Homo sapiens: one gene and its partners. The protein of the gene in region 1 binds, or shares a complex with, the protein of each later gene. Each region holds a gene or a part of one and is shown in the gene's direction. Other genes may lie near its edges.

Region 1 (7,816 bases):
TGGGGCTTCCGTGCAGAGCTGGAGAGTTTCTGCTGTGCAGGAGGCGGGGGCTCTGAGGAAGCAGGTCTGTCCTCCACCCGCCCTCCCGGGGACATTCGTAGGCGTGCCTCGAGCACAGGCTCCCGGGTCAGGAGAGTGGGGGTGGCTGCGAGAAGGCCAGGCAGGTTTCTGCTGGCAAGGCTCCCCCACACCTCTTCTGAGCACCCCTTTCCCACTTGTTCTGTCTGTCCACCGGACTGTCGGTCAGAATTGGTGAAGGAAGCGGCACCTGTTCAGGGCTGGCAGGTGAAGTCTGAGAGGCACGTGGAGGCTGATGGGAGATGCTGCTGCCCCTCAGGGCTCTGCACTCACCTGGAGAGCCACATGGGGCCTGGAGGGCCACTACACAGCTCAGCTCCCAAGTTCGGCCACATCCCCCTTCCTTCTCGGGCCCCAGTTCTCTCTCTACCTAGTGGACGAGCGCCTTCCCCTGGTGCCGATGCTGAAGTGGAACCATGGCCTCCCCTCCCCGCTCCTGCTGGCCCGACTGCTGCCTCCGCCCCGGCCCAGCTGCGTGCAGCCCCTGCTCCTCGGAGGCCAGGGTGGGCAGCTGCAGCTGCTGCACCTGGCAGGTGAGGGTCCAGGCCAGGGTGGGCGGCGTGTGGGAGATGGGGCGGTCGGGGCCTGGACAGGGCCTCAGCTGTCTGTCCTTCCTCAGGAGAAGGGGCGTCGGTGCCCCGCCTGGCAGGCCCCCCCCAGTCTCTTCCTTCCAGGATCGACTCCCTCCCTGCATTTCCTCTGCTGGAGCCTAAGATCCAGTGGCGGCTGCAGGAGCGCCTGAAAGCACCGACCATAGGTGTGCTGGGTGGGGGAGTGAGCTTGGGGGGCGCAGTGGAAAACATCCCCTCCCCCCGCTAGGCCCTGGAGGTCATTGTCATTCCCGTCACCAGGTCTGGCTGCCGTCGTCCCGCCCTTGCCCTCAGCGCCCACACCAGGCCTGGTGCTCTTCCAGCTCTCGGCGGCGGGAGATGTCTTCTACCAGCAGCTCCGCCCCCAGGTGGACTCCAGCCTCCGCAGAGATGCTGGGCCTCCTGGCGACACCCAACCTGACTGCCATGCCCCCACAGCTTCCTGGACCTCCCAGGACACTGCCGGCTGCAGCCAGTGGCTGAAGGCCCTGCTAAAAGTGCCCCTGGCTCCTCCTGTGTGGACAGCACCCACCTTCACCCACCGCCAGATGCTGGGCAGCACAGAGCTGCGGAGGGAGGAAGAGGAAGGGCAGCGGCTGGGTGTGCTCCGCAAGGCCATGGCCCGAGGGCAGCTCCTGCTGCAGAGAGACCTGGGCTCCCTCCCTGCGGCAGAGCCACCCCCTGCACCCGAGTCAGGCCTAGAGGACAAGCTCAGTGAGCGCCTGGGGGAAGCCTGGGCAGGCCGAGGGGCTGCCTGGTGGGAGAGGCAGCAGGGCAGGACCTCGGAGCCCGGGAGACAGACCAGGCGGCCCAAGCGCCGGACCCAGCTGTCCAGCAGCTTTTCGCTCAGTGGCCATGTGGATCCCTCAGAGGACACCAGCTCCCCTCATAGCCCTGAGTGGCCACCTGCTGATGCTCTGCCCCTGCCCCCCACGACCCCGCCCTCCCAGGAGTTGACTCCGGATGCATGCGCCCAGGGCGTCCCATCAGAGCAGCGGCAGATGCTCCGTGACTACATGGCCAAGCTACCACCCCAGAGGGACACCCCAGGCTGTGCCACCACACCTCCCCACTCCCAGGCCTCCAGCGTCCGGGCCACTCGCTCCCAGCAGCACACACCCGTCCTCTCTAGCTCTCAGCCCCTCCGGAAGAAGCCTCGAATGGGCTTCTGAGGACACAAGGTGGGCTGCCCTCAAGCCCCAGAGAGCCCCTCATCCTTCCTCTGGGACCAGATGTGCCTTCCACAGTTGAAACTTGAGAAGCAGAGCTCGCCACCTTCTGGAGGCCACTGTGATGATGAGCCAAGCAATTTGGAGCCAAGTTGAAGGGACAGGGCAACAAAATACAGTAGTAGTTTCTTTTGTATTTTGTATATTCGCCTGAAGATCATCCCGCAAGGCAGGCTGGAGGTGCCGGTGGGCCTGTGTTGCTGGGATTTTAGTCTGTGCTGGGAGGCAGGGCTCCGCTGCGCCTCAGCTGTGGGGGCCTCAGGCAGGTCCCTCAGTTCTCACGCCTTCCTGTCCAGTGGAATGGGGGCCAGGAGTGCTGGCTCCTCGTGTTTGGTGAGGGTGGAGTGAGGCCCCTGCAGAGCTGCTGATGAGGTGGGCACAGCGGCCGTTGGCAGCTGCTGTTGTGGGTTGCTTTGTCAATCTCTGCCCCGGTCTGATGTTTCCTACAGGGAGATGCCTTGGATCCAGGTTCAGGGACTAAATACACTTGGCAGCTGAAGATGAATTGGAATGGTCACGTTTTTTAGGCTGGACAGCGTCCCGCCACAGCTACTACCTGACACTGAGCTCATGCAGAGAGATGATGGCTGATGTTCCTTCTCCCTTGGGACATGGGTCTGGCACCTGTGGGCTGTCGATAGTGCCCTCTGAGCAGAGGGTCACGGTCATGTCAGTTTGGGGGAATTCTCTGTTGTGCCTCACAGACTCCCCCCTTTCTTTCCTCCCTCCCCTTCTCATTTTGATGTCTAAAGCATCAAGTCCCTCTTCCTCGGAGTTTCTCTAGCTGCAGTGGAAGATTCTGTTTTCCTGTGGGGAAAATGCTCACTTGAGATTTTGCAGGGACCCGGGTCTGTCTGGTTTCTGATGACATAGTAAGAGAAAGGTCTTTTTTCAGGTTGGCTGGTGAAAGGAATTGCATGTGACTCACACAAACAGGAGCTAGCCCAATCATACACTGACTCGCGTGGGTGTTAAAATGTTTATCATGCCTAAGGGAGACATTTATGATTAAACCATTTATGCTACATATAACTGGGGAAAACTATGATGCTTTCGGTGCTGGGAATGCAGTGAGGTCCCACGTGGGCAGAGCTTGGCTGGGCTGGGCAACTCCGACACACGTCTCTGGGGGTGTGGCGGCGCTCTCAGTCGGCACTGTGGAAGGAAGGGTGACCTGTGCTTTCTCCCTGTCACTGTGACTGCAAGGACAGGGGGGCAGCCTTGGGGTTCAGTCCAGGCCAAATTCAGTGTCCTCAACTGGGCGTGGTGGCTCATACCTGTAATCCCAGCACTTTGGGAGGCCGAGGCAAACAGATCACCTGAGGTCAGGAGTTCGAGACCAGCCTGGTCAACATGGTGAAACCCCATCTCTACTAAAAATACAAAGATTAGCTGGGCGTGGTGGCAGGCCCCTATAATACCAGCTACTGGGGAGGCTGAGGCAGGAAAATCCCTTGACGGGTGCCTGTAATCCCAGCTACTTCAGAGGCGGAGGCAGGAGAATTGCTTGAACCTAGGAGGCAGAGGTTGCAGTGAGCCAAGATCACATGACTGCATTCCAGCCTAGGCCACAGTGCGAGACTGTCTCAAACAAAACAAACAAAAACAAATTATTCAACGTCCTCCAGGCCTGCCCCCGCCCGAGGCTGCACGGGCTCCAGCTCAGACTGCACTTTTCTGTGCTGGTTCCTAGAGTGGAAGAGAAGGCCACTCAGTGTTCCCGGGAAATGCACTCAGGCCACTCCCTGCTTCCTGCCTGCAAGTCTGGAGTCAGCCAGGCAGCTGTCTTCAGGAAAAAGCCTGGCCACCGATGCGTGCTGGATGAGAGTAGCACGGTCTGGGCTCCACACAGCCCCCAATTTGGGAGTGCACCTGAAGGCAGATGCTGAATGAAAAAACAGTCCCAGCTTGCTTGTTCTCAGCACTAACCGGCTGCTCCCCAAAACCGCATCTGCCAGGCACATGTACCAGCCTGCAGTATGAGGGGAGGCCCCGGTACATTCAGCATGTTTTTCTGGGTCTTCTGCAGCCAGGCCTCTGGCTGCCGTCCCTGCCTGGTGCCCCTTTGCCCCTTTGCCTTCCCTGCCTTGAAGGCCACTAGGACTGGCCTGTGATTCACCCGGGCCTGGGTCACTGTGAAGCAGCCACGCCCTTGTGTGGCTGTCACCTCGCTTGCCCCACACTCCCCAGCAGTGGTGTTGGTGGTCCCCTCCAAAAGCCCTGGTCTAGAAAGGCTGAGGCCAGGGATGGTGAGGAGGGGGTGGAAATGCACGGTCATTAGGCCCCCGCCCCAGGAGATCTGCATGACCACAGGGGGATTGTGACCCCCACACACAGTCAGACTCGGCTGCCCAAGAGGAGGCTGGCTCGGTGGCTTCCTGGCCCAGGCTGGCTACCAGCAAGTGGCAGCTTCAGACCCGTGAACTCAGGAATGGGACCTTCAGAGGATCTGTGTGGTCTGTCCTGGGTGACCCCTCCAGCAACATGAAAGCTCAGGGTAAGGCTGAGTGACTGCCCTGCCCCACCCATCCCAGGCCGGGGAGCCAACATTGTCTCCACTGTGCTCTCGGCCCCACGCTCTTACCCGGAGAAGAGGCTGCAAGGAAGTCGCTGTCCCTGTCTCCACTGGAAGTGAGTGGTGCAGCATCTCTTTGGCAGGTGGGGGGCATCAGTAGCTGGCCAGAGGGGTCCTCGTCGCTGAGCTCCTGGATCAGGGGTCTTGGGGACTTGGTGTCTTGTTTTCGGATTTCCAAGTCCCTCTTAGCTTCTTTTTTAAAGATGTCTGTGAAGGGCACCCGAGCCGCCTTTGAGGTGTCTTTAGAGACTGCAAATATATTTGACAGAGTGTCTGTGGGGAGGTTTTCCAGCACAGGGAGTGACGTGTAGTCCAGTTCAGGGTCACTGTCATCACTCAAGCTCGAGATGACCTCAATCTTCGGAAAGCACATATTCTATTTACAGAAGAAAAGGTGTCTGAAAGTTTCTGTTTTCACAACAGAATCGCTCTACAATGCACCATGCCAGTTCTGCTTTTTCACCCAATGTCACAAAGTATTCTGTTGCCACATCCAAGAAAGGCCCAAGGGAACACAGGACTCTGAAAGTTAGGCCTGGGGGTGGCCACTCCCTGGGCACAGCTCATGTCTATGCCCTTCTCTCTGCCCTCTGCTCCCCCAGCCACTGGCTATTCCTCACCCTCCTGGTACCTGAGAGGGCGCACCCCTGAGCCCTGGGCTCTGCTTGGCATGCCCCTGAACCCCGTTTCCTTCACAGACTCTCTGGGACTTAGCTCCTTGGACAGCAGGCCCCCCACAGTAACTGTGTCTGTTTTCTTTGCTGCTGAGCTCGTGCTCAGAGATGATGGCTGATGCCTCCTTCTCCCTCAGGGTACGGGTCTGGCACGTGTGGGCTCCTGGTAATGCCAGTAATGGCCTCTGGGTGGAGTAGGGTCACGTCACTCTGAGAGAATTCCCCATTGTGCCTCACAGACTCACCCCTTTCTTTCCCCTCTCCTGTTTTCATTTCCTTCCCCTATATTCAGACAGACATTCATAGGATGGACATAGAAATACATCTTAATGACAGAAAGTACTTTCAGCTAACTATGCACTGTACTCAGCTGTTACAAACCAGCAATAGATTTTCAAGTGGTTCATCATAAAATCTTAAAGAAATTGAACAAGAACAAATGGCATTTCCTTCAGCAAGGTGAAAATATGGGGGATGTGGGCTGGGTGCGGTGGCTCACGCCTGTAATCCCAGCACTTTGGGAGGCTGAGGCGGGTGGATCACTTGAGGTCAGGAGTTCGAGACCAGCCTGGCCAACATGGAGAAACCCCATCTCTACTAAAAATACAAAAATTAGCTGGGCGTGGTGGCTCATGCCTGTAATCCCAGCTACTTGGGAGGCTGAGACAGGAGAATTGCTTGAACCCAGGAGGTGGAGGTTGCAGTGAGCCAAGAACACACTATTGCACTGCAGCCTGGGTGACAGAGCCAGACTCTGCCTGAAAAGAAAAGAAAAGAAAAAGAATATGGGGGAATTCAATGCTTTATGCACAGGGAACATTTTACTTTCAAGTTTAGGAGAGAAACGGTAAACGACAAGAACGAAGGTGGAATTAAGCTGCCTGTGGGAAAATGGTTTCTAATGACCTTAACCTGGTCTTCCAGAGATTTGCCTGTTTCATCATCATCTTCCAAGTCAGGTAGGTCCTGAAAGAGCAAGTGAGCCGCACATCACCAGGGAGGTACACGCACTGTCAACGTTCTGATAGGCACGATAAAGGCAAACACGCAGTCAACCCAGCCTTAGTTACAGTTACTCAAATCACTCAGGTGACTCGCCTGCCTGTTCCCCACCAAAAGGAACTCTAGATACACACAAAGCAAGCGTTGCCACCTCAGGTGTCTGGATCTAATAAATGAAAGGGAACTTGCAAGGTGTGACGTGTTTAAAGAATTTCCACATCTTTTTTCTGCTTTTTTATTAAGAGACACAGCCAGTTCATCTTGGGGGAAATAATGGGACCCAAACCAAATGCACCTCTGTACAAACTAGTCCGAAAACTCTATGTGGTATAAAAGTAATATATTTTGTACCTCCCCAAAACTTGTAGGACTTTTTTGTTTTGTATTGTGGGTGTTTGTTCGGTATCTTTGTCCATAACAACCAGTGCGTGGTTGGGGAGGCAGCATAGTGTGTGGTTGGATGCATGAACTGGAGCCACGGTGCCTAGGTTGTTACTCCCCCACCACCATTTTCTAGCTGTCTGGCTTTGGGCAAGTTGCCTAACCTCTCTGTTTCTCATTTTCCTCATCTGGGAAATTGGGATGATAATAGTATGTACTGCTTAGAGTTGTAGGAAGGGTTACATCAATCAATACAAGTCATGCTTAGAATGGTGTCACCCATATAATAAGAAACCAATTAACATTAGCTATTAGTGTTGTAGTTATCTATATGGTCAGTTCTCAAATGTGAGAGATAAATTGCCCAATTATGTCCCTTTCTTTTTCTTTTTTTTGAGACAGAGTCTCGCTGTGTTGCCCAGGCTGGAGTGCAGTGGTGAGATCTTGGCTCACTGCAACCTCCGCCTCCCAGGTTCAAGCAGTTCTCCTGCCTCAGCCTCCCGAGTAGCTGGGATTATAGGCACCTGCCACCACGCCCAGCTAATTTTATTTTTTTTATTTTTTATGTTTTTGTATTTTTAGTAGAGATGGGGTTTCACCATGTTGGCCAGGCTGGTCTCAAACTCCTGACTTCATGTGATCCACCCACCTTGGCCTCCCAAAGTGCTGGGATTACAGGTGTAAGCCTCCACACCTGGCCTTTGTTTCTTTTTTTTACATAGCTCCAGAAAACTAGAAACCCACTGTGAATTCTGACCGTGATCACTTTAACTCTTTTTTTCTTTTTTGAGATGGAGTCTCGCTCTGTCGCCCAGGTTGGAGTGCAGTGGCGTGATCTCGGCTCACTGCAAGCTCCACCTCCCAGGTTCCTGCCATTCTCCTGCCTCAGCCTCCCAAGTAGCTGGGACTACAGGTGCCCATCACCACACCTGGCTAATTTTTTTCTATTTTTAGTAGAGATGGGTTTTCACCATGTTAGCCAGGATGGTCTCGATCTCCTGACCTCGTGATCCAGCCACCTCGGCCTCCCAAAGTGCTGGGATTACAGGCGTAAGCCACCATGCCTGGCCGATCACTTTAACTCCTACTGGGCCATGTGAAATTCTGAAGTTTGAACATTAGAAACACCAGTTTAGAAGAAGTTTAACAAGGAAGTGGGCAGGGGACCACCTCTCCAAGGTATAAGGTCAGAGGTACCCAGAAATGCCTCTCCTATTCGTGCCCCATCAAAGGACAGTTCTTGGGGGGTTGTGAGACAATGTGTGAATTCCCATGGTACCATTCTTG
Region 2 (7,964 bases), about 69 Mb from region 1:
AACAGCCTCCACCTACTAGCTGCCAACAGCAGTCCCCGACCACCCCCAGCTGTGACAACTAAAAGTGTCTCCAGATACTGCCAGGTGTCCTCTGCGGGGGTCGCAGTCTCCTTGGGTTAACAGCCACAGCTCTAAACTGAAAGTTGTATGTGTTGCATTATATATGTTTACCTACATCCTACATGCTTCTAAAAGATGTTGTATGAACTAGTAGGATGAGGTTTTATCACAAGGTAAGTAAATACAAGCTCTGCTTTTCTTTGTATAAATTAATGCCAGGAATCTGGATTAAATATCTTGTTTTTGTAAGCTGTGACATCCCATTTAGGTAATTTTTATTGAAATACGTATCAAAGAAACTCCTAAGAAAATATACTTAAGTACAAGTTGGTCAGCTTGCCTCTTAAAATAAATGTGATGTCTTTATTTTACTCATGTAGAAAAGAATTATATTCATTAAGTCTAAGAAAGTGGTTTCTGTCTAAATTTGCCGTCCGTTGAGGTAGAAGGCAAATTTGGAGTTTTCTTGTTTAGAAAAAAAACTACAGATGACTACTGTGCACCTGAAAACAGCACTCAGCTTCACTAACAAGACATGCAAGCTAGAATCAAATTGCTGTTTTGTTTTGTTGCCTGTCATGATTGTTAGCTGAAACCAAATCACAAGGTCTTTTCTCCCTCTGTATTATCTCAGCATACACTGAGCTTGCAAACATATGAATTTCACATTGTCGTGGAATCTTACAGCCTGCTACTTCCTAAGTTTTCTTTAGAGAAGCTGCCTTGGTGACCAATGAATGTGGTTAGCCTAGTGATACTCTTCTGGGCCATATACTGTGTGACTATCTGCATGGACCTTTATTTAAAGCATTTCTGCAAATAATTTTTTAAAGTTTTTTTTAAATGTGTGATAATTTGTGCTTTTAAAAGTATCTTACACTTTTCACTTATTTGTACCTTTAAAAAAATCTTTTTTTTTTTTAAACCAAAGGTTTGCAGTATCTTCAGAGTCTGAATTTTGAGCGGATAGTGATGAGCCAGCTAAATCCCCTGAAGATTTGCCTGCCCTCAGTGGTTAACTTTTTTGCTGCAATCACAAAGTAAGTTATTTACGCTTTCTTGATGGGAGTTATTTAAAATATTTTTATTTATGTTTATCTAGTATTGTAAGAGTGTTAAATTTCTATGAAATTAGTAACATTATAAAAGGCCAGGCGTGGTGGCTGACACCTGTAATCTCAACATTTTGGGAGGCTGAGGTGGGAGGATTGCTTGAGGCCAGGAGTTAAAAGACCAGCCTGAGCAACATAGTGAGACCCTATCTCTACAAAAAAATTTTAAAAATTAGCTGGGTGTGGTTGCCTGTGCCTGTAGTCCCAACTACTCAGGAGGCTGAGGTAGGAGGATCACTTGAGCCCAGGAAGTCAAGGATGCAGTGAGCCCTGATTGTACCACTGCACTCCAGTCTGGGCTCCAGAATGAGACCCTGTCTCTTAAACAAACAAAAACAACCCAGTCCTTGCAGGAAATACTGTGATACAGCTATTGTTTTTATACTTTGATGGCGTTGGAAATTACTACTACTTCTTATCCAAAGGGCAGCACTTTGAAATAAGTATGGCAACCAGTAAGCTGAGAGGGGCAAAGCCATAGATGCTTATTAGAGTGACTCCTGTAATAGTAATAGAAATAAACTGGACATGAGGCAAATGTTGACCTGTAAGAGATTGGTTTAGAGAGTTCTGTTCTCTCAGGTCTGGTAGCTATGGCTAATCCATAGCCTTTCCTCTGTGCCAGGCAGTTCTAAGCACTTTACATAGAACTCATTTGATCCTCTAGGATGAAACCCTGTTTATCAACAGGGAGGTGGAGGTACAGAGAGGTGAAATCACTTGCCTAAAGTCATAGAGCTAGACTGGCAGCACAGATTTAAATGTAGTCTGGCTCCTTTGTAAGCTTTCACTAAGTTATTCTGCTTTATGGAGAAAGCGAATTGGAGAATTGAATATTCAATGAGGATATTTAGGCCGGATCATAGCTTAAAATCTTCAACAGATAAGAGCCAACAGCTTGCTGAGCTCCGTCAGCCTCTTTAGTTCTCCTTTGCTAGGCGTCTGGTTCAAGGTGTCCTCTCTTCTGAGTCTCAGTGATAGTAAAGGATTAGGAAAAGGCATAAAGAGACCAATAAGCAACGGCAGTGAGTGGGTGGAGGCTTCAGCACGTTGGTTAAGATGGTGAGCAGCTCAAAGAGTGAGGATGGATGAAGCAAAGCAGAGGCCGCTGCCCCTGGTATGTTCTCGGGGTGGGGACAGAGGACTGCATTTGTGAACCATCTGGTCCAGGGGCTCTCGATTTGGGGTTGGCATGCGCATTGGAGGCACAGAGTGTGATGCGATGTGAGGCTAAGAGCAGGGGATTGAAATAAAAGTCTCTGCCTAGGTACAGATATGGTAAATAAAGGCGTGTACCATTCTGTAGCTGTTGCTTTTGCCTGCTTGATGCTTTTGAGATTGAACCATATTGACACAAAGCTTTATTTTGATTTTAACTGCTGTGTTATGTTCTGGGAATCTTTTTTATTGAGTCTTTGTTGGGATTTCATCTGTTAGTTTTTGTCTTTTTTTTTTTTTTTATTTGAGACAAGGTCTTGCTCTGTCACCCAGGCTGGAGTACAGTGGCGTGATCTTAGCTCACTACAACCACCACCTCCGAGGCTCATGCAGTTCTCCTGCCTCAGCCTCCCGAATAGCTGGGACTACAGGCGCCTGCCACCACGCCCAGCTAATTTTTGTATTTTTAGTAGAGATGGGGTTTCATCATGTTGACCAGGCTGGTCTCAAACTCCTGAGCTCAAGTGAACCGCCTGCCTCAACCTCCCAAAGTGCTGGGATTACAGGTGTGAGCCACCGTGCCCAGCCGGCTGTGTTAGTGTTTTAGTGCTCAGGAACATTCTTGTGTGTGGGCACATGCTTCCTTGTCACACACCCGGAAGTGCGGTCAGCTGCGGGGTTGTAGGAGATGCAGATCTTCAACTTTACCTGATAGTGCAAACCACCCTCCAGTGTGGTTTTGCTGATGTGTCCTCCACCAGGAGGAGGGGTCAAGTGCTGTGAGCCTTGGCTAACAGGACAGAAATCAAAGTATGTGGCTTGAAGTTGCCATGGTGACCTGAGAACCTGAGATGGAGAGTGACAGAAGTGAGATCTGAGTCCTCATCTTGGAGAAGCTGTCCAATAGATAATTTTTCAAGTTGCTCAATCATTTAGAGACAACTACTGGAAAAATTAAAAACATAATTGTCTTTATTTTATGTTTTCTTCTATGCATTTAACTGTTCTCACTCGGCATGCCTAGTCCTTTCTGTGCCTGTTTTTGAGGTCATGACTTAGTCAACCCCGTGTCCCTCCTTCAGTAAAGGCTTATTTCTTTTTCAGTGCTTCTTCAGCAAGTCTCTTCACCAACCACTATTTCCTCCTGAGTAACTCCTGAATCCCTTTACCACCAACCTTCTAATTCTTTTGCAAACAGTAAAAATAAAGACACCTATAGTTACGTAATCTAAGAGTTTTGCCTTGCAAACATTTATTTTTAATGAATAGTATCTATTACTCATTAAAATATAATGAATAATATCTATTACTCATTAAAATATAAGCCCAGTTTCACATTCTGAGTGATAGCCACGTTTTCTTTCTCCTTAGCAAACTTGCAAATAGAAGACCCATAGAACGGTACCCTAAAAGTGTTACTTTCTGCTTTATATTGTTATTTTTACTAGCACTTGTTATATTCAGCAATTTCTCTGTGGTAGGTACAGTTGTCACACGCAGCTCACATCTGCACCGAGTCACTCCAGCATGTTAATGCCTCTGTCTGTGTTGTTTTTTTGTTCCACAGTAAGTACCAGCTCGTCTTCTGCTACACCATCATTGAGAGGAACAATCGCCAGATGCTGCCAGTCATTAGGAGTACCGCTGGAGGAGACTCAGTGCAGATCTGCACAAACCCGCTGGACACCTTCTTCCCCTTTGATCCCTGTGTGCTGAAGAGGTAGGTACTTTTAAACATTGACGCTGGAGGAGGTGGATTTTTTTTTTTTTTTTGAGACGGAGTCTCACTCTGTCGCCCAGGCTGGAGTGCGGTGGTGTGATCTCGGCTTACCGCAAGCTCCGCCTCCCGGGTTCACACCATTCTCCTGACTCAGCCTCCCGAGTAGCTGGGACTACAGGCACCCACTGCCACGCCTGGCTAATTTTTTGTATTTTTAGTAGAGACGGGGTTTGACTGTGTTAGCCGGGATGTTCTCGATCTCCTGACCTCGTGATCCGCCCGCCTCGGCCTCCCAAAGTGCTGGGATTACAGGCGTGAGCCACCGCGCCCGGCCAGGAGGTGGATTTAAACGTGATACATGTTTGCTTTTCCCAAAATTGGGATTTAGGGCTCTTCACCAGAAGTGGCCCTTCCTCGCTGTTGATGAGCATCTCGTGGTCTCCCTGCGTATATTTCACCAGATGCAAAGTAGAGGATGCCTAGCAGGACTTGCCGAGTGGCGCAGGCACCCCAGAGTGGGTAGATCTTTGCCTCACTAGGAGCCAGACTGACATCAAGGGTTTTTTGTTTTTTGTTTTTCTTTAAACTGTTATTTAAACATGTAAGGTTAATGGGGATAATGGTGCCAGGATAGGGGAGGGTGCTGTCTTTTCTTGCTTCATAATTTTCTGCCAAGTGTCTTGTTCCTTCCTCTAGAGACCACATACCATTCTGTTGCACAGGATAAACGAAAAACAAACGATTGGCTGGGCGTAATGGCTCATGCCTGTAATCCCAGCACTTTGGGAGGCTGAGGCGGGCGGATCACTTGAAGTCAGGAGTTCAAGACCAGCCTAGCCAAGATGGTGAAACGCTGTCTTTACTAAAAATACAAAAATTAGCTGGGTGTGGTGGTGGCGCCTGTAATTCCAGCTACTCGGGAGGCTGAGGCAGGAGAATCTCTTGAACCCGGGAGGTGGAGGTTGCAGTGAGCCGAGATTGCACCAATGCACTCCAGCCTGGGCGAGAGAGTGAGACTCTGTCTCAGAAAAACAAAACAAAAAAAAAACAAAAAGCGATTTATCTAGATGAGTTGTTCTAGAAAACCACTGGGCCAGCCTTAACTTGGCACTTGTATAAGGAAGCAGGATTTTTGCTTATTATGGTTTCTAAAATAACTAGCAGCATCATGACCATCTGGGATTGTCTGGTCCCTGAAGTCTTGGTTGACTGAAACCAGATTAGTTGTTTTTCCTAGACTTACTTTTCAGCAAATTACTACAGAAATATAAAAAAGAGAGTTCCAGAATATTACGGTTTCATTTCCATTTGGATATACTGTATCTAACTGACTTGTGAGTCTTTGTAAAGTTTAGAAACAATTTCACATGAAAATGGAAAGATGAAAAACGGTAGTTCAATACTCCATCGACATGAGTGAATGAACTCTTATACAGAAAGAGCCACATTAGTTACAGCATTTACATAGAGGGTTGTTTTTTTGTTTTGTTTTTTTCTTTTTTTTTTTTTTTTTTGAGACAGAGTCTTGCTCTGTCTCCCAGGCTGGAGTGCAGTGGCGCGATCTCGGCTCGCTGCAAGCTCCGTCTCCCAGGTTCAGGCCATTCTGCCTCAGCCTCCCGAGTAGCTGGGACTACAGGTGTCCGCCACCACACCCGGCTAATTTTTTGTATTTTTAGTAGAGATGGGGTTTCACCGTGTTAGCCAGGATGGTCTCGATCTCCTGACCTCATGATCTGCCCACCTCAGCCTCCCAAAGTGCTGGGATTACAGGCGTGAGCCACTGCACCCAGCCAGGTTTTTTTTAAATGTAATTATTTAAGCTGTAGTTTTCACTTCTTGGTTTTGGGTAATAGATCTTGTGAGAAAAGATCCAAACCAATTTTGACTTCTGCCGAAGTATTTAACTTGACTTTGAAATGTGATCTTTGTTGACAGGTCAAAGAAATTCATTGATCCTATTTATCAGGTGTGGGAAGACATGAGTGCTGAAGAGCTACAGGAGTTCAAGAAACCCATGAAAAAGGTCAGTTTGTGATTGATTGAGCACACTCTCGGAATCTCCTTTCTGGTTCCAGGTCACAGTGAGATAGTAAGTGGCAAGTCGTTCGTGCGTGTAATCCCCGCACTTTAGGGGGTCAAGGCCAGAGGATTGCTGGAGACCAGCCTGGGCAACACAGTGACACCCTGTTTCTACAAAAATTTTTTTAATTAGCTGGGCGTGGTGGTGCACACCTGTAATCCCAGCTCCTCTGGAAGCTGAGGTGGGAGGTCAAGGCTGCAGTGAGCTGTAAATGCAGCATGGCACTTCATCCTGGGCAACAGAGCAAGACCCTGTTTTCTTTAAAAAAGCACACCAAAACCGTGTCTTACTCATTCTGCCTTTATAAAATTCCAGGCCCAGGTTTTGTTGTTATTTAAAGAGTCTATGGCTTTTTTGGATAAATTGCTTAAACCAGACACTTCACATACTGACATGTGAGAAGCGAAGGTTAATTACAAATTAGCTGAATGAATTTAGATCTTTGCCACTTGCGCATTCTTACCAAGTAACAATCTCCAGTTGACTCATGTTGAAATTGCCCCAGCAGTTTACATTAGTTTTATAGATCTTCATGAATGGGTGGTGAAGACGCAGGTTGCAACATACCCTCCAGGTCACATGAGGTGGAGCTGAGACAGTTACAGTTAGAGAGGAAAGTTAGAATCCAGTAATAAAGAATTTCGCTGCTCTGTTGCTTGGGAGCACATTTGTTTTCTCATTAAAAGCAGCTTCAAGATGGCTTTTTTGTTGTTGTTTTTAATAAGTAATCATTGGAAAGCCCCTTTCATCTTTTTCTTTATGTTTCATTTGTTGAGGGGCGTGTAATTCATTCACATTGTGTTAGGTACAAGAGTTCCTAACACTGGGCAAGAATGACTCGTCATGTTTCCTGTCCCCATTGAGCTTCAAATCTGTTTGCAAGTCAGACTTGAAACAAATGATTACAATGTGTGATGAGCAGTTATGTGGGTATGTTGGTAAGAAGGAAGTGCTTATCAGAGGGAGCTTTTGTTCTGTTCTGTTTTTCTAGAGACATGGTCTCGCTATGTTGCCCAGGCTGGATTCGGAACTCTTGAGCTCAAGCAGTCCTCCCACCTCCACCTCCTGAGTAGCTGGGACTACAGGCGTGTGCCACTACACTGGCTTTCTTTTGAAATTAAGATATTTTCTTCACCATCTTTACAAACGTTAACACCTTCCTGAGGAAGGAATTGTTGAAAGCTTTTCAGTCAGCACTGGTGATGTTACTGATGATTTCTGATGTTTCTGCAGGACATAGTGGAAGATGAAGATGATGACTTTCTGAAAGGCGAAGTGCCCCAGAATGATACCGTGATTGGGATCACACCAAGCTCCTTTGACACGCATTTCCGAAGTCCTTCAAGTAGTGTGGGCTCCCCACCCGTGTTGTACATGCAACCCAGTCCCCTCTGACGGCAGAAATTTGTGACTGAGATGTGACATTTGGGATTCCCCATCACTTGTCATGCCCTCAGCACCCAGCTTGTGCCATTGGGCATTGATGGCATTGAACTAGAGCGAGTGCCTGCCTCGGCTGTGGCACTTCCAGGTTCGACTGAATCAAGCATCTGAAGACTGGGTTTTTTTGTTGTTGTTGTTCCCCTTACAGACAAAATGAAGACTATCATGTGCAATCTTTTACAGTGGGGTTGATGATACATTTGGAAGGATTTGCTTGTTTAATATGTACATTTTTTGTGTTAACAGCTTTTTGACACAATTACTGGGTAATTTCTAATATAGGCAGCAGACTGTTTTACGGGTTGCTGTTTTAACATGGGTTTTTGTCAGATCCATGGTCTTAGGACTTGACTGATGAGCTTTCAGTGAAGAATCCTCTAAGATAAAACTT
Region 3 (7,964 bases), on another chromosome or scaffold:
AACACTTCAGTTAGCCTTTCTGGTTTTGATTTTAAACCCAAATAAGGAAGTAGACATAGTTATGAAAAAAAAGGGAGAAGAACACAAACAAATCAGTTGTCAAGATCCAGGGCTTCTTATTCCATCTTGACTGTGAAGATGAAGTGTTCAGTGTACACCTGATAAAAACATTTATGACACAGGAAGATGTAGGCTCAAGAAAGGAATCTAAACAGCAACCAGCAGAGGTGGAGCAGTGATGCCAGGCTCTTCTACTCAAACTTGATTCTCTAGTTTCACTTGATAAAGTCCAAACCTACATTAATACCCTTGTTGGGTGAGCTAACAGCTTCCTTCACTCCCTGGTAATTCCCTTATCTGTACATTACAGATTTTTAGCAGTGTACTTACAAATCCTACTAGTGTGTAGTCAGTTGTGAGATTCATTGTAACATTTTATAAAATATATTCCTTCTTCCCACACCTCTCCAAAATTTATTCCTTCCAAGTACTAAAAATTTAATATTACTGCACCACAGTGATATTAAATGCAGTGTCAGTGCCAGAGAATATGCAGAAATGAAATGTGTCACTTCCAGTGCTGTCTTCTGGAAGAATAGTTAGGTCTTCCAAGTGTGAGTGTTCAAACACTGATAGTTTGAAGAGGTGGATTATCAATAGTCAATGGCTAATGTGTTGACTCAGGGGCCTGCTGGAAAAGGTATACATGAGTGACCTATGTACATCTTCCACGTTTTCTTCCAAATATCAAATATAGGAGAGAACCTATCTCAAACATTCTCTTAGGTATTTTCAGTGGTTTCTGAACCACCCATAGAAAGCGCTGATGGTGTATAGTCTTTTTTTCTTTTATTTTTAGTTGACATGTAATAACTGTACATATTTATCGGGTATACAGTGATTTTTCCATATATGTCAATAATGTATAATGATCAAATCAGAGTAATTAACACATTCATCACCTCAAACATGTATCATTTTTTTGTGTTGTGAACATTCGAAATCCCCTCTTCTAGCTTTTTGAAAATATACAATAAGGCTGGGTGTGGTGGCTCACGCCTGTAATCCCAGCACTTTGGAAGCTGAGGCAAGAGGATTGCTTGAGCCCAGGAGTTTGAGACCAGCCTAGGCAACAAAGTGAGACCCCCATCTCTACAAAAAAAATTTAAAAATTAGCCAGGCATGGTGGCACATACCTATGGTCCCACCTACTTAGGAGGTTAAGGCAGGAGAATCCCTTGAACCCAGGAGGTTGAGGCTGCAGTGAAAAAATATACAACAAATATAGTTAACTGTATTCAACCTACATTGCTGCAGAATACCAGAACTCATTCCTCCAGTCTAGCTGTAATTTTGGAATTGCAGGCTGCTTTAGGCTTTTCACTTAGTGTTGGCAGCATAGATTAAGATGGACTGTGTAGTTCGTGTGATTGGTTTTAGATGTATAACAAGTATAATGGGTGAAGGAGGGCATCACATTGAAGAGCTATCCTTTCTGCACCTGAAAAGCCCTCTTTCAGGTTTTTGGTTTTGATGTATGTTAGTAGACGTTTGTTAAAGATCGTACAGATTACATGGGAATAAATATGAAGTTTGTGATAATTGAAACACATACTATTTTATTTTATTGAGAATAGGGTCTTGCCCTGTTTCCCAGGCTGGAGTGCAGTGGCACAGTCATGGCTCACTGAAGCCTTAGGCTCCTGGACTCAAGCGATCCTTCCGCCTCAGCCTCCCAAGTAGCTGGAACTACAGGCACGCCCCACCCCCTCACCCCACCCCCTCTGGCTAATTTTTTTGTAGACAGGGTTTTGTTTCACCATTTTGCCCAGTCTCATGTTGAACTCTTGGTCTCAAGCGATCCACCCAATCCTGGGATTATAGATGTGAGCCACCACACCTGGCTCACATACTATTTTATATTAATTTTTTTTCCTTATTTCAGGAAAAACTGGAAGGTTGGTTAGTGTCTATTAAAATAGCTTTTGATAAGAAGGCTCAGAAGACCAGTGTTTCCATGAACACTGACAATTTGATGAGGATTTTTACAATGGGCATAGACCTTACAAAACCATTTGAATACCTTTTTGCTACTGGGAATCTGCGTTCTAAAACAGGTAAAATTAAATCGATCGTTTTAGTTATGTTTTTCAAATTAGTTGCTTAGTGTAGATTTGCCTGTCCCTGAGAGTTCTTTTTAAAAGCAAACCCCACGAAAAAAGTAAATTTCTCATAACTATGACTTCGACAACTATTGGTCTAAAGGGCTTTAGACAAGGTGTCTGTATAGCTAAAATTTAATTCAGATAACTGAATACATTTTCTCTGCTTCCTTCTAGAAAATGAAAGGCCACTTAGACCTCTGAGGAAGGCTTACCTAACAGGAACTCTAGATGGGTTGCTGTACATGCCCATCTCTAAACCATTTGCCTTGCCTCAGAGTGACCTGAGAGGCCAGGTGTGGTGGCTCATGCCTGTAATCCCAACACTTTGGGAGACCAAGGTAGGAGGGTCACTTGATCCTAGGAGGTCAAGGCTGCAGTGAGCTGTGATTGCACCACTGTACTCCAGCCTGGTGACAGAGTGAGACCCTGTCTCAACAAAAAAGAGAATGACCCTAGAAACTTAAAAAGTGGTAATTGGGAATTCAGAATTTTTTTTTTTTCTTTTTTGAGTCAGGGTCTCACTCTGTCACCCAGTCTAAAGTGCAGTGGCAGGATCATGGCTCACTGCAGCCTTGACTTCCCAGGCTCAGGTGATCCTCCGACGTCAGCCCCACGAGTAGCTGTGACTACAGGCATAAGCCACAACACCTGGCTAATTTTTGTATTTTTTGTAGAGATGGGGTTTCGCTATGCTGCTGAGGCTGGTCTGGAACTCTTGAGCTCTGGTGAACCACCCACCTTGGCCTCCCAAAGTGCTGGGATTATAGCATGAACCACTGTGCCCCGCCTTTTTTTTTTTTTTTTAAACCCATGTTACTGTTGCCGATTCTTTCATTAGCCTGCTTTCTTGCTTGTCTATTATCTGACTCTCTCAGATGAATTTAACTACTTGCTATTTTATTAACTCATTTAATGTTCACCCACAAAGGAGGTCATAGAGGAGACAGGGAACTAGTTGGGGCTAATACAGTTTGTGAAATCTGGGGATTATTTTACATATTTTTTTGTGAACTCTTTACACTCATCAGAGCTAGGAGAATAAATGTTGTAATAATTCATTCTATGATCTGTAGAGTGCTCTGAGGTTTTGTCGTCATAAAGCCTCAACAATTTCCATTTTTCAAAAGATTGGCCCATTTTTGAATGACTTTTGTTTTATTAAGGTCTTGGCCTCCTACAAGATTCTGGACTTTGTGTTGTGGCTGACAAGCTGAACTTCATACGCTACCTCTCCCATTTCCGCTGCGTGCACAGAGGGGCTGATTTTGCCAAGATGAGGACCACCACAGTACGCAGGCTGCTGCCAGAGTCCTGGGGCTTCCTTTGTCCCGTGCATACCCCAGACGGGGAGCCCTGTGGCCTGATGAACCACCTAACTGCCGTATGTGAGGTTGTCACACAGTTTGTGTATACGGCATCTATTCCAGCTTTACTGTGCAACTTGGGTATGTAGTGTACAGTGATAAACATCTTGTTTGGTTATGTGGGTTTTTTTGTGTTCTTTTTGTTTGTTTGTTTTGAGATGGAGTGTTGCTATGTCGCCCAGGCTGGAGTGCAGTGGCGCGATCTTGGCTCACTGCAAGCTCTGCCTCCTAGGTTCACGCCATTCTCCTGCCTCAGCCTCCCGAGTAGCTGGAACTACAGGCGCCCGCCACCACACCCGGCTAATTTTTTGTATTTTTAGTAGAGACAGGGTTTCACCGTGTTAGCCAGGATGGTCTCGATCTCCTGACCTCGTGATGTGCCTGCCTCGGCCTCCCAAAGTGCTGGGATTACAGTTGTGAGCCACCGCGCCCGGCCAAGGTTACGTGGTTTTTAACCTGTTAAGTTGTGCTGCTTTTGGAGATTCAGCAGAGATTTTCTGTAAGAATTCTTTTTTACTCTTCTGTGCAGGAGTTGGGCTGCTTTCTTGGCTCCTCTGTAGAAGGCCGAATGCATTCTTTGAAAGTGAAAACAGGAGAAACTAAGTGTTATAGGTACTTTGTTTTCTTTGGGAAAAAAAAAAAGATAATGGAAGTGAGGATCGCTTGAGCCCAGGGATTTGAGGCTGCAGTGAGCTGTGATTGTGCCGCTGCTGCACTTTAGACTGGGTGAGAAAGTGAGATCCTATCTCCAAAATGAAAAATAAATGAATAAGAATGATGCCAAAGCATTCGAAATAGACTAGTCATTAATATTGGAAGTATAGAAGCTATTGAGTAGTTTTTTGGGTCATTTCTTTTTGCATCTCTTGGCGGATCTTTGCATTTCTAAATAGAAAACAGTGTTGGTTTGCAGGAGGACAGTTTAAAAGGAGGTTTCCCAGTCTACCCTGATATCATCAGATATATAACCTTTTTTCCTGATAACCTTAAAGCTGCTGTCTCTGTCTCTGCTTGGCTTGATACTTGGTTTGAATTTACTTTCATACCTAAAGATGTCAGCCTTCTCTGCAGTCTTCTAGTCCCAGGGTTCTCCATTTATGATTTGGAGACAGAAATGTTCTGTCTTTGGTGGTCTGTGGACAGGGTCCTCAGTGGGATTAATATGTGTGCAGTAAAACTTCCAGTTCATGGGGATCAGATGATAAGTGTTCTCAGGCAACTAGAAGGGCATTGACTCAAGAAAGTTCTGCTTAAAAGTACTTCTCCCAATTAGAGTGGCCTGGCCGGGCGTGGTGGCCCATGCCTGTAATCCCAGCACTTTGGGAAGCCGAGGTGTGCAGATGACTTGCGGTCAGGAGTTTAAGACCAACCTGGCCAACATGGTGAAACCCCATCTCTACTAAATATACACACACAAAAAAATTAGCTGGGTGTGGTGGCATGTGCCTGTGGTCCCAGCTACTCAGGAAGCTGAGGCAGTAGAATCACTTGAATCCAGGAGGTGGAGGTTGCAGGGAACCAAGATTGCACCACTGCACTCCAGCCTGGGTGACAGAGTGAGACTCCATCTAAAAAAAAAAAAGAGAGAGAGAGTGGCCTGTAAGAAGAGGGCCCTACAGAAAGTAATCAAGAAATACTCAAGATTCAGAAGATGTAATCAGCGTAATTTGAAGGTTTATCCTCTACGAGGAAAAGAATTTTGTTACTCGTGATTCAAAATGTCAAAGTCCAGGAGAGGGTAGAAAGGAGAAAAGAGAAAGTGGAGAGGTAGAAAGTATATCCAACTGCAGAAAAAGAGATGGGGAAGGGTTTTTTGCTCTAGCACTGGAGAAGAAGACGGAATCGCTACCTAACTTTCGATAGAGATGTTCATATTGTGGTGACAGATGAAACACGAGGCAGGTAACTTCTGACACTCTAACAAACACTTGATGTCTTCAGAATGTATTTATGGTTCATGGAAGAGTGTTCTTTTTTTTTTTTACTTAATTTCAGTTGATTCTCATTATTTGTAGTACTCATCTTTAAAGTTACCAGTGAATATTGAACCATTGTGCCTAGGGGAAATACAGGGTAAGGTTCCTTCAAGCCTCGGGTTACAACATTTTTGTTAGCCGATCAATATGTAGCCTTGTTTTTTGTGTGTTTCTGTTGAAAGACACCCTTTAAAAATATATATTGTTCACGTGGTAACATTGAATTCTCAGCCAACAGCAGTGTAATTATAGGCTTATCTAACACACATGTTTTTCTGTTAGGCACATCACACCTTTTTGCATTTATGAACACTAGGCAGCACTTCAGTGCTGCACTCGGAGGCAATTTGTTTTTTCTGTTTGTTTGTTTGTTTGTTTGTTTTGTAGAGATGGGGTCTTGCTATGTTATCCAGGCTGGTCTCGAACTCCTGGCCTCAAGCATTCCTTCTGCCTTGGCCTCCCAAAGTGCTGGGATTGCAGGTGTGAGCCACCATGCGAAGCCTGGAAGCTGTTATTTAAACAGCTTCCAACAAAAAATCACACCAACAAAAAGCACAAAAATGCTGAAAACGTGCCAGTGAACAGACTGGGCAAGGGGCACTTGTTTATAGTATGAGCTGACAAGAAGGCATGGCATCGTCTTGTTTGACTTCAGCTGCGGGGAGCATCTGCATCGGGGGACTCAAAGTTTTTTGCTGCATGTTCTGAAATGACTTTGAAAGCATCCCCAGTATTAATTTTGTGGTTACAGAGATAATGTAGCAAGTAGGCAAATGTGCACATAATGAGGATTAACTGTAATTACATTTTGGGGGTTAATGCATTTAATGCATTTAGGTGGCTTAGAAATAAAAATATTAAGACATACAGTGAAATGCTCCCTCCCATAGGCCCCTGTCCCCTTGCTACTTCTTTCCTGTGTGTCCTTGCTGAAGCAATTTAAACTTCCACAAGCAATACAAAAGCCTTCAGGCTTACCCCGGAGATATTGCAGGTTTGGTTCCAGAGCGCTGCAATAAAGTGAGCCACATGAATTTCTCGGTTTCCCACAGTGCATATGAAAGTTATGTTTACACTATGCTGTAAATATTTCAATTTTAAGAATACTTTATTGCTAAAAAATATTAAATCATCTGACCCTTCAGTAAGTTGTAATCTTTTTGCTGGTGGAAGGTCTTGCCTCAGTGTTGCTGGCTGCTGACTGATCTGGGCGGTGGTTGCTGAAGGTTAGGATGGCTTGTGACAATTTCTTTTTTTTCTTTTTTTTTTTTTTTTTGCGACGGAGTTTCGCTCTTGCCCAGGCTGGAGTGCAGTGGCGCGATCTCGGCTCACCGCAACCTCCACCTCCCAGGTTCAAGTGATTCTCCTGCCTCAGCCTTGCGAGTAGCCGGGACCACAGGCATGCACCATCATGCCCGGATAATTTTTTTTGTATTTTTAGTAGCGACGGGGTTTTTCCATGTTGGTCAGGTTGGTGTCGAACTCTCGACCTCAGGTGATCTGCCTGCCTCGGCCTCCCAAAGTGCTGGGATTACAGGTGTGAGTGACTGCACCCGGCCAGCTTGTGACAATTTCTTTCTTTTTTTTTTTTCTTTTTTTTTTTGAAATGGAGTCTTGCTCTGTCACCCAGGCTGGAGTGCAGTGGCGTGATCTCGGCTCACTGTAAGCTCTGCCTCCCGGGTTCACGCCATTCTCCTGCCTCAGCCTCCCGAGTAGCTGGGACTACAGGCGCCCGCCACCACGCCCGGCTAATTTTTTTGTATTTTTTATAGAGACGGGGTTTCACCGTGTTAGCCAGGATGGTCTCGATCTCCTGACCTCGTGATCTGCCCGCCTCTGCCTCCCAAAGTGCTGGGATTACAGGCGTGAGCCACCACGCCTGGCCTGTGACAATTTCTTAAAATAAAACAAGTTTGCGACACCAATTGCATCTTCCTTTCACAAAAGATTTCTCTGTAGCATGTGATGCTGTTTGATAGCATTTTACCCACAGAGGAGATTATTTCCAAGTTGCAGTCAGTCCCCTCAAACCCTGCCGCTGTTTTATCAACTAAGTTTATGAAATAATCTAAATCCTTTATTGTCATTTCAACAATGTTTACAGCATCTTCTCATTTCTTGAGATCCCATCTCAAGAAACCATTTCTGCTGGGCACAGTGGCTTAGGCCTGTAATTCCAGCACTTTGGGAGGCCAAGGCGAGAGGATTGCTTGAGCCCAGGAGTTCGAGACCAGCCTAGGCAACACAGGGAGACCCTGTCTCTACAAAAAAAAAATTTAAAAATTAGCCAAGCATGATGGCACGCACCTGTCAGCTACTCGGGAGGCTGAGGTGGGAGGACTGCTTGAATCTGGGAGGTTGAGGTTGCAGTGAGCCATGATCATGCCACTGCACTGCAGCCTGAGCGACAGAGCAAGACCCTGTCTCAAAAATAAAACAAACCCATTTTTTTTGCTCAT
Region 4 (7,964 bases), on another chromosome or scaffold:
AAATACAAAAATTTGCCGGGAGTGGTGGCATGCGCCTGTAATCCCGGCTACTTGGGAGGCTGAGGCAGGAGAATCACTTGATCCTGGGAGGCAGAGGTTGCAGTGAGCGGAGATTGCGCCATTGCATTCCAGCCTGGCAACAGAGCGAGACTCCGCCTCAAAAAAAAAATCTGTATATCAAAGAGTTTGTGTTATGCTTATTCCTTGACACCAATAAAATGAAGATCTAAAGTAAAATGTGCATTGTTTTGTATCTTTTATTGAGTGTCTGTGATATAAGAATCCCTGGGAGTACAGCAGTCTATAAAATAAGCTAAGTTATATATGTATTGTATTGGGATCATGTGAAGAATTTTGTATATGTATAGGGATGATGTTAGCCAGCTATAGTAGGCAAAGTAATTTGGATAAACATTAGCTGGGTTGAGAGAAATGTTAAGTAATGGACTTAGGGTGCATTTTAAAATCCCTGAAACATAATGCCTGAGATCTGAAAGACAGCTAAGGGTCTGAAAATCACCTTTTAACCACTCATAATGAGTCTGTATGACATGTAGCATTCTAAGAATTAATCTTTCATCTATTATAATCACATTTAGTTGAATACATAATTTTATTACTTTACGTTCTTAAGTGATATTTAACCAATAAAAATAGTAGAGGAAATTCTGGAAATTCAAAATAGCTAGGCTTTTCCTGGGACGTATATAAACTACTATATACTGCTAGCTTTTTTAGATGTTGATAAAATCACAGGGAAGACATAGAGCAGGTTTTAAACTAAAATTGTTAAAAGCCAGGCATGGTGACTCAGACCTGTAATTCCAGCACTTTGGGAGGCCAAGGTGGGAGGATCACTTGAGGCCAACAGTTCAAGACGAGCCTGGGCAACATAGCAAGGCCTTGTTTCATCAGAAAATTTAAAAAATTATCTGGGGTTGGTGGCACACACCTATAATCCCAGCTACTTGGGAGGCCAAGACAGAAGGATCTCTTGAGCTCAGGAATTCGAGGCTGCAGTGAGCCATGATTGCACCACTGCACTCCAGTCTGGGCAACAAAGTGAGACTCTTGTCTCTAAAAAAAAAAATTAATAAAATAAAAAAATAAAATTGTTAAAGCAATCTAGTTTGTCAAAGAGTCGTCTTAATTAGAAACATGTAGGTTTTTATTGTATAATTAAATGTATTAAAATATTTAAGTTGTTTCAAAGTAATTATTTGCTTTTTATCATGTACCTAATAACTGAGGCCATTAATTCAACCCACAGTTGAAATATTTTCCCCTTGAGTTACCACCTTAGCAAGAAAATTTTCTGAAAGAATTAACATGTTTCAAGCATAAAAAGCAGAAAATAAAAGTTAAAACTGTGTTTTTTTCCTAATTTGCATTTATGTGTTTAATACATTAATATTGTTTCTAAAGACCAATTGAAAGCATGATTTTACTTCATTACGTATTGATAGGCTTGTAATCTGATTTATTAATTCCATTAAGGTAGAAAAGGTTTATTGGTTTATTTGCCTCAAAATTCATATTAATAAAACAAAATGTATCAGAGAAGCTATAGTCATGATAAGCAGCAAATATAAAGTAGAAACAGAAGCACTTGTATTTATTGAGAACATAACCAAATTTTGCAAACATTTCTCTTGATGGAATGCTCATGTGAAAGAACATACAGATTTGGTATAACTTAGTCACAATTGATTATTTTCTGCTCCTTATGCAAAGGAATATTTGTTACATGTGGTGTATGCAAATCCTTTACAGATATACAGAAATACAGAACAAATATTTTGATAACTAGATGTACTATGTCCTTCCTACCAGTTGTGATTTTTTTGTCAATGGGTGGTTCGCCTAACAACATTGAGCAGTTTGGCATGACCTCACTAATGATTCTCTCTGACCATTGTAGCGGTTTGCTGCGGTAATCATGAGGATAAGAGAGCCACGAACCACGGCACTGATTTTCAGTTCTGGGAAAATGGTGTGCACAGGAGCCAAGAGGTAGCCGTAAGAAATTCATTCTTCTGGTCTATGGGTTATGAATGAAAAGGTGATATCTCATTGTTTTTAGGTTATTAGGTTAGCACTTTAACATGTTATTATTGCTTTCTTATAAAAACCATTTTAATATGATTCTATTAATTATTTTTATTTATTTATTTATTATTTGATTCTATTAATGTTAGATAGCAGTGATTTCATTTTCTTAAAAATTAGATATGGGCAGGCGTGGTGTCTCACCAAGGCGGGCAAATCACTTGAGGCCAGGAGTTCGAGACCAGCCTGACCAACATGGTGAAACTCCATCTCTACTAAAAATACAAAAATTAGCCAGGCGTGGTAGTGGATGTCTGTAGTCCCAGCTACTTGGGAGGCTGAAGCACGAGAATCGCTTAAATCCGGGAGGTGGAGGTTGCAGTGAGCTGAGATCATGCTACTGTACTCCAGCATGGGAGACAGAACAAGACACTTTCTCCAGAAAAAAGAAAAAAATTAGGTAAGATGTAATACAACATCAGAACTATTAATAAAATTCCCTTTATGTGAAAAATGTTGTAAATAACACAAATACATCTTGAAATGGAAGAAAAAATTGATCAAGAATTAAAACACTTCTAAGCTAATGGTGTAAGGGCTTTGCAGACCTTATTGGGCCTGGCAGCGTGACAGCATCACATGTGTTGGCTGCAGAAACCTGCCTTCTCACTGGAACTAGCTTTCATTAATAGTGTTTGAGTTGTGCAGATCTTAAGGAATGCACCCTTGTTATAAAATGTCATTGCCTATATTCTCCATCTGAAGTGATCCTGTCTGAAGGTTAGTACTCTGCGGCCCTGACTGTTCTAAACAGAGCTTATATACTTGGTAGAAGTCAAAAACTAGGGGGAAAATTAGTGACATTAGCTTCATAAATGAACTGAACAAATAAACTAAAACTTTTTAAATGAAAGAGTATTAAATGTACTTGGAGGTATCAACACATAGAAGGGGGCTGTGGATATTTTTGCTTATTCTGAAGTTTGAAATTGTCTTTCAGTGATGGGAATGCCATTGGTGTGGACATTCTGGCTCCTGATCTCCGAGGTTTTTCAGAATGCAGGACAAGGATGTGTTCTTGCCTTTCACTTCCCCTTGGCCACAACATGCAGTAGTAACCTCTTTAATTAAGAGCGTTTTTGTTTGCTTGTTTTCCCCTGCATGGAACATCAGAAACTTTTGGTTTATCAAGGCAAGCTTTTCATGCAGCATTTAGCCTTTTTGTCCCAGAGCATCTGAAAACTGAATATTGTATATGTAGTTGGATGACTATTTCATCAAGACAAGAAACCACCAATACATTTACCTGAAATTTAAAAGCGTAGCATATATATATATGCTTGATTTTTGTTCTTCCTGATCCCCTGCACCTGATAGTCTCTTTATGGTAATATTTTCACATTCTTTTTTGTTGTTGTTGTTGTTTTTGAGATGGAGTCTCGCTCTGCGCCCAGGCTGGAGTGCAGTGGCATGATCTCGGCTCACTGCAAGCTCCGCCTCCTGGGTTCACGCCATTCTCTTGCCTCAGCCTCCCGAGTAGCAGAGACTACAGGTGCCCACCACCATGCCTGGCTAATTTTTGTATTTTTAGTAGAGATGGGGTTTCACTGTGTTAGCCAGGATGGTCTCAATCTCCTGACCTCATGATCCGCCTGCCTCAGCCTCCCAAAGTGTTGGGATTACAGGTGTGAGCCACCGTGCCCGACCTGCCTGCCTGCCTTTTTCTCTTTTATTTTTTCTTTTTTTCTCTTCTTTCTTTCTTTCCTTTTCTTTTTTTTTTTTTTTTTTTTTTTTTTTGGTGGAGTCACCTAGGCTGGAGTGCAGTGGCACAATCTTGGCTCACTGCAACCTCCACCTCCCAGGTTCAAGTGATTCTCCTGCCTCAGCCTCCCAAGTAGCTGGGATTGCAGGTGCCTGGCACCATGCCCAGCTAATTTTTGTATTTTTAGTAGAGATAGGGTTTCACCATGTTGACCAAGCTGGTCTCGAACTCTTGACCTCAGGTGAGCTATCCGCCTTGGCCTCCCAAAGTGCTTGGGATTAGAGGCGTGAGCCACCATGCCTGGCCCACATTCTGCTTTTCTTATGTAAGCTCTGAACTGCTAAGTCGTAGTTTATTCAACAAATGACATAGGAATGTCTATTCATGATGAGTCTTGGTATAAAAGAGGATAGAATTAGTGAATACATTGTTCAATAATAAATCTCATCAACATTTTCTGATCAAAATGAAGTTTGTTAGTTTTCCTCTCAGTAGAAATGCATGGGCTAAAATACAGAAATAGTGATGACTGATGATGGTGATAATTCACATCCATAAAATCTAGGGCTACAATAATTTGGCGGATTGAAAGGTCATTTTGGCAGGCCTACAGTTTTCTGTCAAGGATCCAGGAATACTTTATAAGGAATTGTGAATGCCTGTCAGTCTTTTCTCCTATTGCAAGAAGGCTGACCAGTTTACACTTTATTAGTTTACTGTTTTGGACTTTTTATAAGTTATTAGTCTAAATAAGTATTTTAGCTGGCTCTGAGTATGAATAACTCACTTTTTTCCTTTCCCTAGTGAAGAACAGTCCAGACTGGCAGCAAGAAAATATGCTAGAGTTGTACAGAAGTTGGGTTTTCCAGCTAAGTTCTTGGACTTCAAGATTCAGAATATGGTGGGGAGCTGTGATGTGAAGTTTCCTATAAGGTTAGAAGGCCTTGTGCTCACCCACCAACAATTTAGTAGGTAAGTCTGAAATGTATTATGATTGTTATTGGCAACAGTTCATTTATAATCTAAACATTGTTCAGAATAAAACACATGCAAAATATTCAGTATATGAGAACAGTTGACATGGTTATAGTTGTATGTATTCTTGCATTGTCTTCCTGATGTTCTCAGTCATATTTATCACCCTCACCAGCCTCTGCTTCCCTTATCACTTTGCGGTACCCATAACTCCCCTTTACTGGAATGAATTTGATTCTACTTCTGTATGTTTTATCGTTTTATTGCTGAATACACTTGGAATGCATGAATTGACCCTAACCTTGTATCAATTTTTTTTCCCAGTTTGGATCTTCTCTTTTAGTCAACATTGTGTCAGATCTACCAGCAAAGTGTGAAGTTGAGCGATAGGAACAACTTTCTAATTATCTTCCCTGCTACTTGCAGGTGAAGACTCACAGGCAGGCAGCCCTGCCCACCTCACTGCTTCATCTCATGGTCTTCTGGTGTCTGTTCACAGGCACATTAGTTCTGTGTGCCCCTGGGGCTCACTTGGTTCCTCCTGCCCTAGGCCTTTGCACTTGCCACTTTTATGCCTAGTATGCTCATTTCCCTTTTCACCTAGGAAGCTCCCACTTGAGTTCCATATGTCTACCCATTCCACTCTTCCTCAGAGAAGCCTGTCCTGAATTTTGTCTTAGGTCAGACACACAGAAACAGAGGCATCCTGTTTTCAGTCTCTCCGAACTGAGAAAAATGAGATTACTAGGCTTAGAAGAATATGTACCAGGCCTGGCCTGGTGGCTCACACCTGTAATCCCAGCATTTTGGGAGGCCGAGGCAGGCAGATCAGTTGAGTTCAGGAGTTCAAGACCAGCCTGGCCAACATGGTGAAACCTCGTCTTTACTAAAAATACAAAAATTAGCTGGACATGGTGGTGCATGCCTGTAATCCCAGTTACATGGGAGGCTGAGGCAGGACAATCATTCGAACCCAGGAGATGGAGGTTGCAGTGAGCCAAGATCGTGCCACTGTACTCCAGCCTGGGCGACACAGCAAGACTCCGTCTCAAAAAAAAAAAGAATATATACCAATAGTCCATTCAGTCAGACAGCTTAATCAGGTATAGGTTAATTCTCAGGCTAGTATATAAGTTTGATTAAATTTCCTGACCACAATTGTCAGCTAGAGAATATTTCAATTTAAGGAGGTAAGATATGATTAAAAGTTAAACTGTCAGTATTGGATCTTAGAAGTAAATGATTATTAGGACTGTAATAGTAATTATTAGGACTGTAAAAGTAAAGGATTATTATCTGCATTAGATATCATTATATCTAATGATATAGAGACTGCAGACATAACTACAGGGCTCTTTTTCTTAAATCAGAAAATCCAGATTCAATAGAAATAGGGTAAAGTGATAGGAGGACAAATAGCCTTCCATCCAGTGGTTATCAACTGACGACTACAAGTCGGCCTCACTTGCTTTAATTATTCTATTCTATCCTTTGATGCTGCTTGAAGAACTGTGTTTTACCTCTTGACTAGTTTGTTTATTCAGTATTTTTCCTTGTACAGGTCCTCATTTTATCTAAAAGCACACAAAGCTCTTGATTTCTAAACTTTTTGCAATTTTCCTTCTAGTTATGAGCCAGAGTTATTTCCTGGTTTAATCTACAGAATGATCAAACCCAGAATTGTTCTCCTTATTTTTGTTTCTGGAAAAGTTGTATTAACAGGTAAGTTGTAACAGGAAGTAGTATCTGAAAGTTTGTAAGTGTTTTGAGTATGGCATTTTCTCAGTGCTGAAAAGAAATTTCAGTGTTCGGACAGTGGGCTAGCTTCTTGTACAAAGGCCTCCCACCCAAAGTCTGATGAGAAACGTGCCCACTAAAGGCACAGTGAGAGCAGGGAAGTCTGACCACAGCTCTGCAAGCAGACTTCCATTTACAGTGAGGAGGTGAGCATTGCATTGAACAAAAGATGGCGTTTTCACTTGGAATTAGTTATCTGAAGCTTTAGGATTCCTCAGCAATATGATTATGAGACAAGAAAGGAAGATTCAGAAATGAGTCTAGTTGAAGGCAGCAATTCAGAGAAGAAGATTCAGTTGTTATCATTGCCGTCCTGCTTGGTTTATGGCCTGGTTCAGGACCAAGGAGAGAAGTGTGAATACATGCCTCTTGAGCTATAGAATGAGACGCTGGAGTCACTAAGATGATTTTTTAAAAGTATTGTTTTATAAACAAAAATAAGATTGTGACAAGGGATTCCACTATTAATGTTTTCATGCCTGTGCCTTAATCTGACTGGGTATGGTGAGAATTGTGCTTGCAGCTTTAAGGTAAGAATTTTACCATCTTAATATGTTAAGAAGTGCCATTTCAGTCTCTCATCTCTACTCCAACTTGTCTTCTTAGGTGCTAAAGTCAGAGCAGAAATTTATGAAGCATTTGAAAACATCTACCCTATTCTAAAGGGATTCAGGAAGACGACGTAATGGCTCTCATGTACCCTTGCCTCCCCCACCCCCTTCTTTTTTTTTTTTTAAACAAATCAGTTTGTTTTGGTACCTTTAAATGGTGGTGTTGTGAGAAGATGGATGTTGAGTTGCAGGGTGTGGCACCAGGTGATGCCCTTCTGTAAGTGCCCACCGCGGGATGCCGGGAAGGGGCATTATTTGTGCACTGAGAACACCGCGCAGCGTGACTGTGAGTTGCTCATACCGTGCTGCTATCTGGGCAGCGCTGCCCATTTATTTATATGTAGATTTTAAACACTGCTGTTGACAAGTTGGTTTGAGGGAGAAAACTTTAAGTGTTAAAGCCACCTCTATAATTGATTGGACTTTTTAATTTTAATGTTTTTCCCCATGAACCACAGTTTTTATATTTCTACCAGAAAAGTAAAAATCTTTTTTAAAAGTGTTGTTTTTCTAATTTATAACTCCTAGGGGTTATTTCTGTGCCAGACACATTCCACCTCTCCAGTATTGCAGGACAGAATATATGTGTTAATGAAAATGAATGGCTGTACATATTTTTTTCTTTCTTCAGAGTACTCTGTACAATAAATGCAGTTTATAAAAGTGTTAGATTGTTGTTATACCTTGTAAGAGTCATGTGATCATACTGTTTTCTACAAAGTTGTATTTTAGATATAATGCCTGAAACCATTTTGGTGTTTGCTTCAGTC

What was found.
Region 2: TAF1C (region 1) and RRN3 share a complex: the UniProt entries of both Homo sapiens proteins name them as parts of the pol I pre-initiation complex.
Region 3: TAF1C (region 1) and POLR1B share a complex: the UniProt entries of both Homo sapiens proteins name them as parts of the pol I pre-initiation complex.
Region 4: TAF1C (region 1) and TBP share a complex: the UniProt entries of both Homo sapiens proteins name them as parts of the transcription factor SL1/TIF-IB complex.

What each region holds. Positions count from the first base shown.
Region 1 is NC_000016.10:84,172,965-84,180,780, reverse strand, and holds the end of TAF1C (TATA box-binding protein-associated factor RNA polymerase I subunit C), read left to right. Parts: intron 1-436; coding exon 437-611; intron 612-697; coding exon 698-835; intron 836-929; coding exon 930-1,840; 3' UTR 1,841-2,926; downstream 2,927-7,816. Other genes in the region: DNAAF1 (dynein axonemal assembly factor 1), read right to left, coding at 2,940-3,052, 3,175-3,267, 4,482-4,848, 6,059-6,112. UniProt on the Homo sapiens protein: Component of the transcription factor SL1/TIF-IB complex, which is involved in the assembly of the PIC (pre-initiation complex) during RNA polymerase I-dependent transcription.
Region 2 is NC_000016.10:15,061,305-15,069,268, reverse strand, and holds part of RRN3 (RNA polymerase I-specific transcription initiation factor RRN3), read left to right. Parts: intron 1-991; coding exon 992-1,100; intron 1,101-3,897; coding exon 3,898-4,050; intron 4,051-5,985; coding exon 5,986-6,073; intron 6,074-7,363; coding exon 7,364-7,525; 3' UTR 7,526-7,964. UniProt on the Homo sapiens protein: Required for efficient transcription initiation by RNA polymerase I (Pol I). Required for the formation of the competent pre-initiation complex (PIC).
Region 3 is NC_000002.12:112,555,965-112,563,928, forward strand, and holds part of POLR1B (DNA-directed RNA polymerase I subunit RPA2), read left to right. Parts: intron 1-1,945; coding exon 1,946-2,117; intron 2,118-3,328; coding exon 3,329-3,610; intron 3,611-7,964. UniProt on the Homo sapiens protein: Catalytic core component of RNA polymerase I (Pol I), a DNA-dependent RNA polymerase which synthesizes ribosomal RNA precursors using the four ribonucleoside triphosphates as substrates.
Region 4 is NC_000006.12:170,564,997-170,572,960, forward strand, and holds the end of TBP (TATA-box-binding protein), read left to right. Parts: intron 1-1,921; coding exon 1,922-2,013; intron 2,014-4,615; coding exon 4,616-4,783; intron 4,784-6,413; coding exon 6,414-6,508; intron 6,509-7,189; coding exon 7,190-7,269; 3' UTR 7,270-7,863; downstream 7,864-7,964. UniProt on the Homo sapiens protein: The TFIID basal transcription factor complex plays a major role in the initiation of RNA polymerase II (Pol II)-dependent transcription.